Linked DNA regions of Homo sapiens. The protein of the gene in region 1 purifies or fractionates together with the protein of each later gene. This does not show direct contact. Each region holds a gene or a part of one and is shown on either strand. Other genes may lie near its edges. The genes, in order: TEAD4, FN1 and VASP.

The links.
Region 2: the proteins of TEAD4 (region 1) and FN1 purify together in Homo sapiens (affinity purification with mass spectrometry; 3 studies listed by BioGRID and IntAct, with this or other methods). This does not show direct contact.
Region 3: the proteins of TEAD4 (region 1) and VASP purify together in Homo sapiens (affinity purification with mass spectrometry; 3 studies listed by BioGRID and IntAct, with this or other methods). This does not show direct contact.

What each region holds. Positions count from the first base shown.
Region 1 is NC_000012.12:3,018,345-3,021,994, reverse strand, and holds part of TEAD4 (transcriptional enhancer factor TEF-3), read right to left. Parts: intron 3,451-3,650; coding exon 3,407-3,450; intron 2,881-3,406; coding exon 2,825-2,880; intron 1,362-2,824; coding exon 1,222-1,361; intron 152-1,221; coding exon 1-151. UniProt on the Homo sapiens protein: Transcription factor which plays a key role in the Hippo signaling pathway, a pathway involved in organ size control and tumor suppression by restricting proliferation and promoting apoptosis.
Region 2 is NC_000002.12:215,360,253-215,363,106, forward strand, and holds the end of FN1 (fibronectin isoform 1 precursor), read right to left. Parts: exon of another isoform or gene 2,401-2,854; coding exon of another isoform or gene 2,394-2,400; intron 1,828-2,393; coding exon 1,717-1,827; intron 1,375-1,716; coding exon 1,303-1,374; 3' UTR 613-1,302; downstream 1-612. Other genes in the region: bifunctional purine biosynthesis protein ATIC, read left to right, coding at 2,394-2,400. UniProt on the Homo sapiens protein: Fibronectins bind cell surfaces and various compounds including collagen, fibrin, heparin, DNA, and actin. Fibronectins are involved in cell adhesion, cell motility, opsonization, wound healing, and maintenance of cell shape.
Region 3 is NC_000019.10:45,517,475-45,521,124, reverse strand, and holds part of VASP (vasodilator-stimulated phosphoprotein), read right to left. Parts: intron 3,463-3,650; coding exon 3,291-3,462; intron 3,197-3,290; coding exon 3,031-3,196; intron 176-3,030; exon of another isoform or gene 1-175. UniProt on the Homo sapiens protein: Ena/VASP proteins are actin-associated proteins involved in a range of processes dependent on cytoskeleton remodeling and cell polarity such as axon guidance, lamellipodial and filopodial dynamics, platelet activation and cell migration.

The DNA.
Region 1 (3,650 bases):
CATTGGAGGGTCCCCGTTCGAAGAGATCCTTGAGTCCACCCTTTTTCTCCGGGAATTTGTCATAGATTTGGCGGATGTCCACGGCTTCGAGGTAGGGGTCGCTGTAGCTTGGGCTGGACTGGCCAATGTGCACGAACAGGTGCTTGTTGTACTGTGGAGAGAGTGGGTCTGAGGGAGACGGAGCACAGGCCAGACGGTCAGACAGACAACCCTGGCTCTGCGTGCCCACCACGTGACCTGGTGCAAGCCGCTTGGCCTTTCTGGGCCATAGTTTCCCCATGAGTAAAATAGAGATGGTAAAAGTCTACTCCTTTTGTTTTACATCCTGGACTTCTAAGTAAAGGTCTATTTGGTTCATGGGTTCCTCAGCTAAAAAGAAGTCTGAGCCGGGTGCGGCGGCTCACACCGGTAATCCCAGCACTTTGGGAGGCCGAAGTGGGTGGATCACTTGAGGTCAGGAGTTCAAGACCAGCCTGGACAACATGGTGAAACCCAGTCTCTACTAAAAATACAAAAATTAGCCAGGTGTGGTGGCAGGCACCTGTAATCCCAGCTACTCCGGAGGCTAAGGCGGGAGAGTCGCTTGAACTCAGGAAGTGGAAGTTGCAGTAAGCTGAGATCATGCCACTGCACTCCCAGCCTGGGTGACAGAGTGAGGCTCTGTCTCAAGAAAAAAAAAAAAAAAAAGAAGTTTGAAGATGTCAGAGTGAGAAGGGCCCTGGCATCCTGTCACCTTGGCCTCCTCCAGGTCCCCCTCTGACCTTTGCAGGTGACGCTGGTCACCCAGGACACTGGACACCGAAGGGGACAGGCTGGTATCCCATAGGATATGGAGCAGACACAGGAGACTCCTCAGCTTCCTGCCCGCTTCTCAGAACCAGAGAGAGGCTGGGACAGTGTAGGGGTGGGGCTGGGACCAGAGCAACCTTGGACTAAGGGTCGGTTGGGTTAGGAGGGGAGGAGGAACACAGGACAGGGAGGGAGGAGCGTGACGCTGACTGGGCGCTGGGACACGGAAAGGAAGCCAGGGAGGAGGGAAAGAGGGAAGAGGGGTGACGTGAAGGAGGAAAGGAGGAGTGGGGGGAAGGGCAGAAGGGAAGATCGGAAAGGAACAGGGAACTTGAATTAAGCCCCAGCATGGAGTGGGGCAAGACTGCCGGAAGCAGAAACAGAGGGAGAGGGGGTGACCAGGGAGCTGGACAGGCAGAGGCCAGGACCTACCGTGTCCGGGTCCTGCTGCTGCTCCAGGAAGGCAGAGAACTCCAACATCCAGAGCTTGGAGCTGGCCACGCTGCGGCCCTGCCATGGGGGTGCCGGGGGCGCAGAGGGCGATGGGGCGGGCCCTGCAGGAGACTCAAACCCTGCACAAAGTGAGAAAGGCACATGGAACCTGGTCACGGACACCCGCCCTGCCCGCACCCTCTGCAAGGACCCCAGGCCTCCTCGGACAGACCCGTGCTGCCTGGGGGGACCGCCTGTCTCCCTAAATGGACCTCCTAGCAGAGGTGGTGGAGGGAGTGCCAGGCTTGGGCCAGGGCATCCTGGAGCTGCCCTGGTGGGGAGGGGCTCGCCTGGTACAACTCGGGCCACTCAGCACTCTGCATGGAACCGCCGAGCAAGACTGGATTCTGGAGGGCAGCTGGGGCCCTGCAGGACCGAGAGGCTTCCAGAACAGGCACTGTTAAGTTCCTGCCCTCAAGCAACTTCTGTTCCAGTCGGGGAAATAACCAGATGAATCCACTATTACAATATGGCATCATCCCGGAGAGACGGGGACGTTTCCTGTTTGCATCACATGTGTCTCCCCCGCTCCCAGAACAGGGCCTGGCCCAGAAGAGCCCCTCAATCCAGCGTTGCTAACAGATGAACCTACTCCAGTCCTACTGTAGTTTAGATCGTGTCCTGAAGGCACCAGGGGGCCAGGAAGGCACCATAAACCTGGAAGCAACACCGTGAGACTGAAGCTCTGGTGAGTGACAGGGTGACGAGAGGAGGTGAGACGGGACAGCGAGCCGGTGGAGAGGCTGCTGCAGGAACGCAGGCAAAAGCCAGCAGGCCTGGAGTGAAGACATGGTCAGTGTGGACAGAAGACTGGCATGAGACAGAGGGTGGACGGGACCTGACGCTGTGACTTTGTTTTGATGTGTGAACGAGAGAAAGCAGCCTTCAGGACCTGGGGGACAGAAGGCAGCAGGGCTGCTCTTGGTGGCAGGGAAAGCCAAGGGGCCGGGCAGGCAGACTCCACACCAGAAAGGGCAGTTTAAGAGTGAGGAGCTGGTCTTGTCCTACAGAGTGGGAGGTGGTGAGGGCCCCTCCTGAGAAAGAGACGAGGACAGAGCAGAGCCTGTCAGTGAGAGGGCGGGGTGGGGGCTCCTGTCAGCACCGCTGGCTGCCTCCACCAGGTCTTCTCCCACAAGGGTCCCTCTTCTCGGGAGGGGCTCCAGGCTGGTGAGCTAGACACCCCTCGGCCCTCCCAGGACCAGGTGTGTGAGGCACACTGCAGTAACAAGGCCGGCCAAGTGGGGCAGCCGCCAGGGCACGGGCACTGCCCTTGGAACTGCACGTGCCCCACAAGCCCTGAGCACAGCTTTGAGGGGACAGGAGCAAGGCAACCCGAGGGGCATGAAGGGGCTTGGCACACGGCTGAGGTGTGCATGCTGGGGGAAAGGAATGGGGTGTGGCCAGGGACTAGGACGTGTGGTCAGTGTGCATGACGGGGCAGCATCTAACAGGGACACGCAGGCGTTCGGCTGCCGGGGGCCTGGACCCAGAGGCAGGAGCCACATGGCTGCGATAGAAAGGGGGCCACGCAGCGCCCACCCACCTGGCAGAGGCAGCGGAGGCTGGACAGCATAGGTTTGCTGAGAGAAAGGCTTCACACTGCGGGAGAGAGAGGAGGGGAGGTGTCAGCCTCGGGCAGGCCACCGCCCCGGATCCCTGCACTGGGTCCAGTGGTCTGTGTGGTAGGTCCTGGTGGTCTGGATTTCAGTGGTCCCGATGGGCCTTGGCCTCCTACTCCCGCCCCTGCCGACTCCCCTGGGTTTCGTGGCGGGTCCACAGACACAGCGTGTCTGCTGAAGAAATCCACCCCTCCCTCTCCTCCTCCCAGGCCAGCCAGAGGTCTGCTTCCCAGCCTCCTCCCCTGGGGGACCCCAGCTCTGGCCCTGCCTATACCCTGGACAGACTGGAGTTTTGGCAAATACCACCCTAGGGTGTAGACATCACAGATGAGCCCAGTGATGGCTGACAGTAGAAGAGCCCAATCCCTGAGCTCAGAGCCATCCTGAAAGGCCGACCCCAGCAGCGGCCCCAGCACACCCTGGGGCCCAGGCTTAATGCCATGAGTTTATGGGTTCAAGTTCAGTTCAGGGAGCAACTGGCAAGAGAAACCAGAGGCCATACTCACTCATGGGACGTTCCGGCTTGGCCTGGCAAAGCTCCTTGCCAAAACTGAGGAGGCAAAAGGCATGGAATCAGCACGGCCCCAGGTGCACCCGGGGCCCTGTGGTGTGGGGGTGGGGGTAGGACCGGGCAGGGCCTCCACTGGGAGGAGAGGCTGGAGCCCGAGGCCTCGCCTAGCTAGTGAATGCTAACAGGCCACAGCAGCACCCCCAGAGTGAGTTTCAGGGGGCTCTCAGGCCCTGTGGAGG
Region 2 (2,854 bases), on another chromosome or scaffold:
ATCCCAAAGTTTGTTTCCTCAATGTTAAATTGAAAAAGAAATGACCTTTACAGATCAGGAGTAAACAAACTGTTTAGCTGGGAGTTTATCAAGCCATGCCAAAAGTGTCAGCTGACCCAAAGTAAGACATGTTAGATGGGGGTTATCATACCATGGGGTTTCCCTAAGATAAAACTCCTCCATATTATACTATTCAAATACTTTTAATATCTTAGTCATTTTTATTTCCCTTGCAGGCAATCTCTTTGAACAGAGGTTTATTCAATGAAGGAAAGGTGGAGGGAAGAAGGGAAGAATTACAATGGTTAGAAAAGAGCAACTAAAGATTATTTCTATTATACTTCTGAACGGTAAACTAGCAATTTTAATAAATATTGGGGTCCACTTAAATCTATTAAAGCAGAAAGTGTAAAGCTATCTCCATTAGTGAAGAGATGAAGTGACAAAAACCAATCAGTTTTTGTAGCAACTGATTTAGAAAATCTTGTACTGAAATCAACAATTAGACTTGCACATCATAGATTTTCAAATGTTTGCTGAATTGAAAAAGAATATTCACAGGAATTATTTCCCCCGAAGGTGTCTTATATCAAATAGATGAACTTCAAGTTGTGGAATGTAAATCTTTTATTAAAACAGTTGTCTTTCCACAGTAGTAAAGCTTTGGCACATACAGTATAAAAAATAATCACCCACCATAATTATACCAAATTCCTCTTATCAACTGCATACTAAGTGTTTTCAATACAATTTTTTCCGTATAAAAATACTGGGAAAAATTGATAAATAACAGGTAAGAGAAAGATATTTCTAGGCAATTACTAGGATCATTTGGAAAAAGTGAGTACTGTGGATATTTAAAATATCACAGTAACAAGATCATGCTTGTTCCTACAGTATTGCGGGCCAGACACTTAAGTGAAAGCAGAAGTGTTTGGGTGACTTTCCTACTTAAAATTTTGGTCATATCATTTCAAAACATTTGCATCTTGGTTGGCTGCATATGCTTTCCTATTGATCCCAAACCAAATCTTAGAATCACTTCATTTAAAATACTGAGCGGTATTGAATACTTCGAAGCAGAACAGGCAATGTGCAGCCCTCATTTATGAGAAAACCCTCAGGAAACTCCCAGGGTGATGCTTGGAGAAGCTGTGAGTTGAGCTGAAGCTGGAGAACTTCCTCCAGAGCAAAGGGCTTAAGAAAGAAAGAAGAACTCTAAGCTGGGTCTGCTAACATCACTCCAGTTTAGATGGATCTTGGCAGAGAGACATGCTTGTTCCTCTGGATTGGAAAGATGATTTACTCTCGGGAATCTTCTCTGTCAGCCTGTACATCTAAAGGCATGAAGCACTCAATTGGGCAATTAACATTCTGTTAAAAAGGAAGAAGGAAAAAAAAATTAGTGGCAAATACTGTAAAGTGTACAGAAAAAAAAATGCGGGGAGGTGGGGACTCATGACAGCTGCTTATAGATAGGATAATATTTCTTCCTAGTTTCAAGAACCTAGCAGCATACTGGGCAATAGGAGATGTTCAAGAGTTACATAAATTATAACTTAAACTATATTATGGAATACAGTGTTTCACTTAAGTCATTTATGAGTTGTTTTTTTTTTTAATTAATTAAAACACTTGGTTCATTCTGAAGAAAGATACCTGTAGAAAGAGACTGTCTAGTATGAGGGAACACACTTGTGCTGCTAATGCACTTACAGTGTTTGTTCTCTGATGGTATCTCTGAGAATACTGGTTGTAGGACTGGCCAGTAGTGCCTTCGGGACTGGGTTCACCCCCAGGTCTGCGGCAGTTGTCACAGCGCCAGCCCTGAGAGAGTAGAGGCATGAAGTCAAATGGGGTTTATGATAACCTGAGGACATCGTAATTTAGTGTTTGAGTTAAAGAAAAATGTCACATCATATGCACTGGCAAAATATAAGCAGTTAATCACTAAGCAAGCTTTGATGATGATTTCATGCATTTATAACTCTTAATACATTTTGGCTTATTACCATATCTTATACCTACATCTGTCTCTCTATGTTGTTTCTTTCTCCTGAAATGTCTCTTCTCTTCCTATTCAAACCTTGCCCATCTGCTGAGGCTCATTCCAATCCCAACTTCCTCAACAAGTTCTCTGCACTAGATGATAGAAAAGGTTTTCAAAGAATCCTAGCGATTTTAAAAGGGACTTGAGATCACATGAAGAAACGTTCTCATTTTATAGGTAAGGAAACAGAGACCCAGAGGAGAGGAGTGACTTGCTTAGAGGGAGCAGGGAAGTCACACAGTGGACCACTGGTGGAGTTGGGCCTGCCGCCCAGGAGGTGGGGTGACCTGGCCATGTTCTTTCTAATGCACCACTTTGCCACTCTCTTCCTAAACTTCCCTAGGCAGTGACATGGTAGCCTGTCACCTGGCCGGAGATGGCATGGGAGATGGAAACGGGACCAAGCTGAGCCAGTGAGGCTCCTGCCTGAAGTTTTTACTGGAAATGGGAGGACACACATGTTCTCTTTCACTACTGTTCTTAAGCTGGCAGGGGGTAAAGCAAGCTCATGGAGGTCAGTCATCAATGGCACCATCAGCAGAGACCCCGCTGAAGCACGAAGCCAGTGCATGGGAAGGCACGCGGAGCAAGAGGGAGTCCGGGCGCCATTGCTGGAGCAGCCCCTGAAGCCGGTGGGTCCTGGGACTGTTCCATTGTGTGGGCCATTTTTGCTTGAGTTGGACTTTTTTCTTACAACTAAAATGCAGCCCTAAATAATACAGTCACTTTCTTTTTTATATTAGAATTTAAATATTTTAGACATATTTCTCTGTTTAAGCACATATGCCCCTTAATACCTAACAC
Region 3 (3,650 bases), on another chromosome or scaffold:
CCCTAAGGTAGGTGCTGTTGTGATGTCCCAGTGACAGGAGAAGCTAAGGCCCGGGGAACAGTCACTTGCCCCAGATTTCTCCAGGGTGGAATGTGCAGGAACAAGACTTGAATTCAGGCTGATTCCAGCAGCCAGGCTCTTAACCACTGTTGGTTTGTTTCGAGACAGAGTCTCACTCTGTCACCCAGGCTGGAGTGCAGCAGTGCAATCACGGCTCACCACAGCCTCCACCTCCCGGGTTCAAGAGATTCTCCTGCCTCAGCCTCCTGAGTAGCTGGGATTACAGGCGCCTGCCACCATGCCTGGCTAATTTTTGTATTTTTAATAGAGATGGGATTTCACCATGTTGGCTAGGCTGGTCTCGAACTCCTGACCTCAAGTGATCCACTTGCCTCAGCCTCCCAAAGTGCTGAGATTACAGGCGTGAGCCACCGCACCTGGCCCCTGGCTAGCTCTTAACCACTGTTACAGCCACTTGGACCTTACCTAAGAACCTGGAAAGGTAAAGAGCTTCTTCCTCACCTACCTCCAGGCCTCTGGCCCTAGCACCTGAATTGAATTGGCTACGAATTAACAATGAATTAGCCCCAATTTACAGATGACTCAACTGAAGCCCACTGTATTTTTCTGTGTGCCCCAGAGGAGCAAGCCCCTTCCGCACTAGCACAGAAGTTGTCCCACGAAGCAAACACCCCTGCATTTGGTGACTTTCAGTTCTACAGCAGTGATTCCAGGCCAGATGCACGGCAGTCACCTAAAACCTCACTACTCAGTCACGTCCGCAGACCAGCAGCCTGGGTATCACCAGGGCACTTGTGAGAATGTGGAGTCTCAGTCCGCCCAGCCCACCTGCACCAGAGCCTGCACTTTAACCAGATCCCCAGGTGATTCATGTGCACGTTAAGGTTTAAGAAATAGCAACTGGGCTGGGCGCGTGACTCGCGCCTGTAATCTCAGCACTCTGGGAGGCCGAGGCGAGTGGATCACCTGAGGTCAGGAGTTCGAGACCAGCCTGGCCAACACTGCGAAACCCCGTCTCTACTAAAACTACAAAAATTAGACAGGCATGTTGGTGCACACCTATAGTTCCATCTACTCAGGAGGCTGAGGCAGAATTGCTTAAACTCAGGAGGCGGAGGTTGCAGTGAACTGAGATCACACCACTGCACTCCAGCCTGAGAGACAGAGTGAGACTCCATATTAAAAAAAAAAAAAAAAAAAAAAAAAAAAGGCCGGGCGCAGTGGCTCACGCCTGTAATCCCAGCACTTTCGGAGGCCGAGGCGGGCGGATCACGAGGTCAGGAGATCGAGACCATCCTGGCTAACACGGTGAAATCCCGTCTCTACTAAAAATACAAAAAATTAGCTGGATGTGGTGGCGGGTGCCTGTAGTCCCAGCTACTCGGGAGGCTGAGGCAGGAGAATGGCATTTACCCGGGAGGCAGAGCTTGCAGCGAGCGGAGATCGCGCCACTGCACTCCAACCTGGGGACAGAGCGAGACTCCGTCTCCAAAAAAAAAAAAAAAAAGCAACTGGGCTGGGTGTAGTGGCTCATGCCTGTAATCCCAGCACTTTAGGAGGCTGAAGTGGGAGGATCACTTGAGCCCAGGAGTTCAAGACCAGCCTGTAGACCATCTCCACAAAAAGTAAAAAAAAAAAAAAAATTTGAAATGATCCAGGTGGCCAGACATGGTGGCTCACACTTATAATCCCAGCACTTTGGGAGGCAGAGGCAGGTGGATCACTTGAGGCCAGGAGTTTGAAACCAGCCTGGCCAATATGGTGAAACCCCTTCTCTACTAAAATACAAGGGCCGGGCATGGTGTCTCATGCCTGTAATCCCAGCACTCTGGGAGGCCTAGGCGGGCGGATCACAAGGTCAGGAGATAGAGACCATCCTGGCTAACACGGTGAAACCTTGTCTCTACTAAAGATACAAAAAATTACCCGGGTGTGGTGGCTCACGCCTATAGTCCCAGCTACTCGGGAGGCTAGGGCAGGAGAATCGCTTGAACCCGGGAGGCGGAGGTTGCAGTGAGGCAATATCGTGCCACTGCACTCCAGCCTGGGCAACAGAGTGAGACTCTGTCTCAAAAAAATAAAAATAAAAACAAAATACAAAAAAATAGCTTGGGCATGGTGGCACATGCCTGTAATCCCAGCTACTCAGGAGGCTGAGGCACGAGAATCACGCGAACCCGGGAGGTGGAGGTTGCAGTGAGCTGAGGTTGCACCACTGCACTCCAGCCTGGGTGACAGAGCAAGACTCTGTCTCAAAAAACAAAACAAAAAAAGAGCCAAGTATGGTGGTGCACACCTGTATTCCCAGCTACTTAGGAGGCTGAGGCAAGAGGATCACTTGAGCCCAGGAGGTGAAGGCTGCAGAGAGCCATGATTGTGCCAGTGCACACCAGCCTGGGCAACAGAGCGAGATCCTGTTTCTGGGGCAGGACCTACCTATGTCTTGATCTGGGAGGTGGTTTCCCGGGAGTGTGCCTGTGTAAAGTTCATGGAGTACTGATCCCTGAGTAATCGTGCATTTTTTTTGTGTTTGTTTTCTTTCTGAGACGGAATCTTGCTCTGTCGCCAGGCTGAAGTGCAGTGGCCTGATCTCGGCTCACTGCAACCTCTATCTCCTGGGTTCAAACACTTCTCGTCCCTCAGCATCCCGAATAGCTGGGATTACAGGCGCGCACCACCACGCCCAGCTAATTTTTGAATTTTAATAGAGACGCAATTTCACCATGTTGGGCACGGTGAAACTCCTGACCTCAGGTAATCCGTGTGCCTCGGCCTCCCAAAGTGCTGAGATTACAGGCATGAGCCACGGCGCCGGGCCAATGGTGCATTTTACACATAGGTGCACACGGTCACACTGGAATGCACAAAATGCTAGTGATAATTTTCCATGATAACAATGAATTCGCTCTATTTTACCGACGAGTAAACCAAGTCCCAGCAGGGTAAAGCGGCAGCCCCAGGCCACACAGCCGCATTCACTGGTCCCCTTTGCCCGCCGCCATTTCTGACCTTCCAACGCCTCTAGGGCACTGGCCATGCCGGCGGCAAACTGGGCCGCATCCTCCTTGCTGCCGAAGTTGAGGCCCCAGACCTGGCGAGCGTCGCGCCACTGATGGAAGTTGGGGGTGGCCTGGTTATACTTGACACCCCGGACGATGGCACAGTTGATGACCACCTGGTGGGAGGGGAAAGGGGGGTGAGGGGCGGCGGGCGCAGGGGTGGGGCGGGTAGGGGTTCAGCCCACAGAGGGGGCCGGCGGGAAGCTGCACCTGCTGGTCGGGCTGCATCTTCCGGCCCACGACGCGAAAGGAATTGGCCGTGGGGTTGTGGTAGATCTGGACGCGGCTGAAGGCCTGGGGACCCGTGCCAGCAGGGAGCCATCGCTTGTTGCCATCATCATAAAGCATCACAGTGGCCCGGCTGGAACAGATGACCGTCTCGCTGCAGGCGGGAGGAAAAGGGAGAGGGGCCGGTCACCTTCTTATCTGGGTCTCTCCTGGGAGATTCCAAGGGACAAAGACAGTGTGTGGAAGGAAGAGAGTGACACAGAGGGAGGCAGGAGCCACGTGGACAGAAGGAGACGGGGGAGACAGATCAGGAGAGAAAATCAGATCAGGAGAGACAGGCAA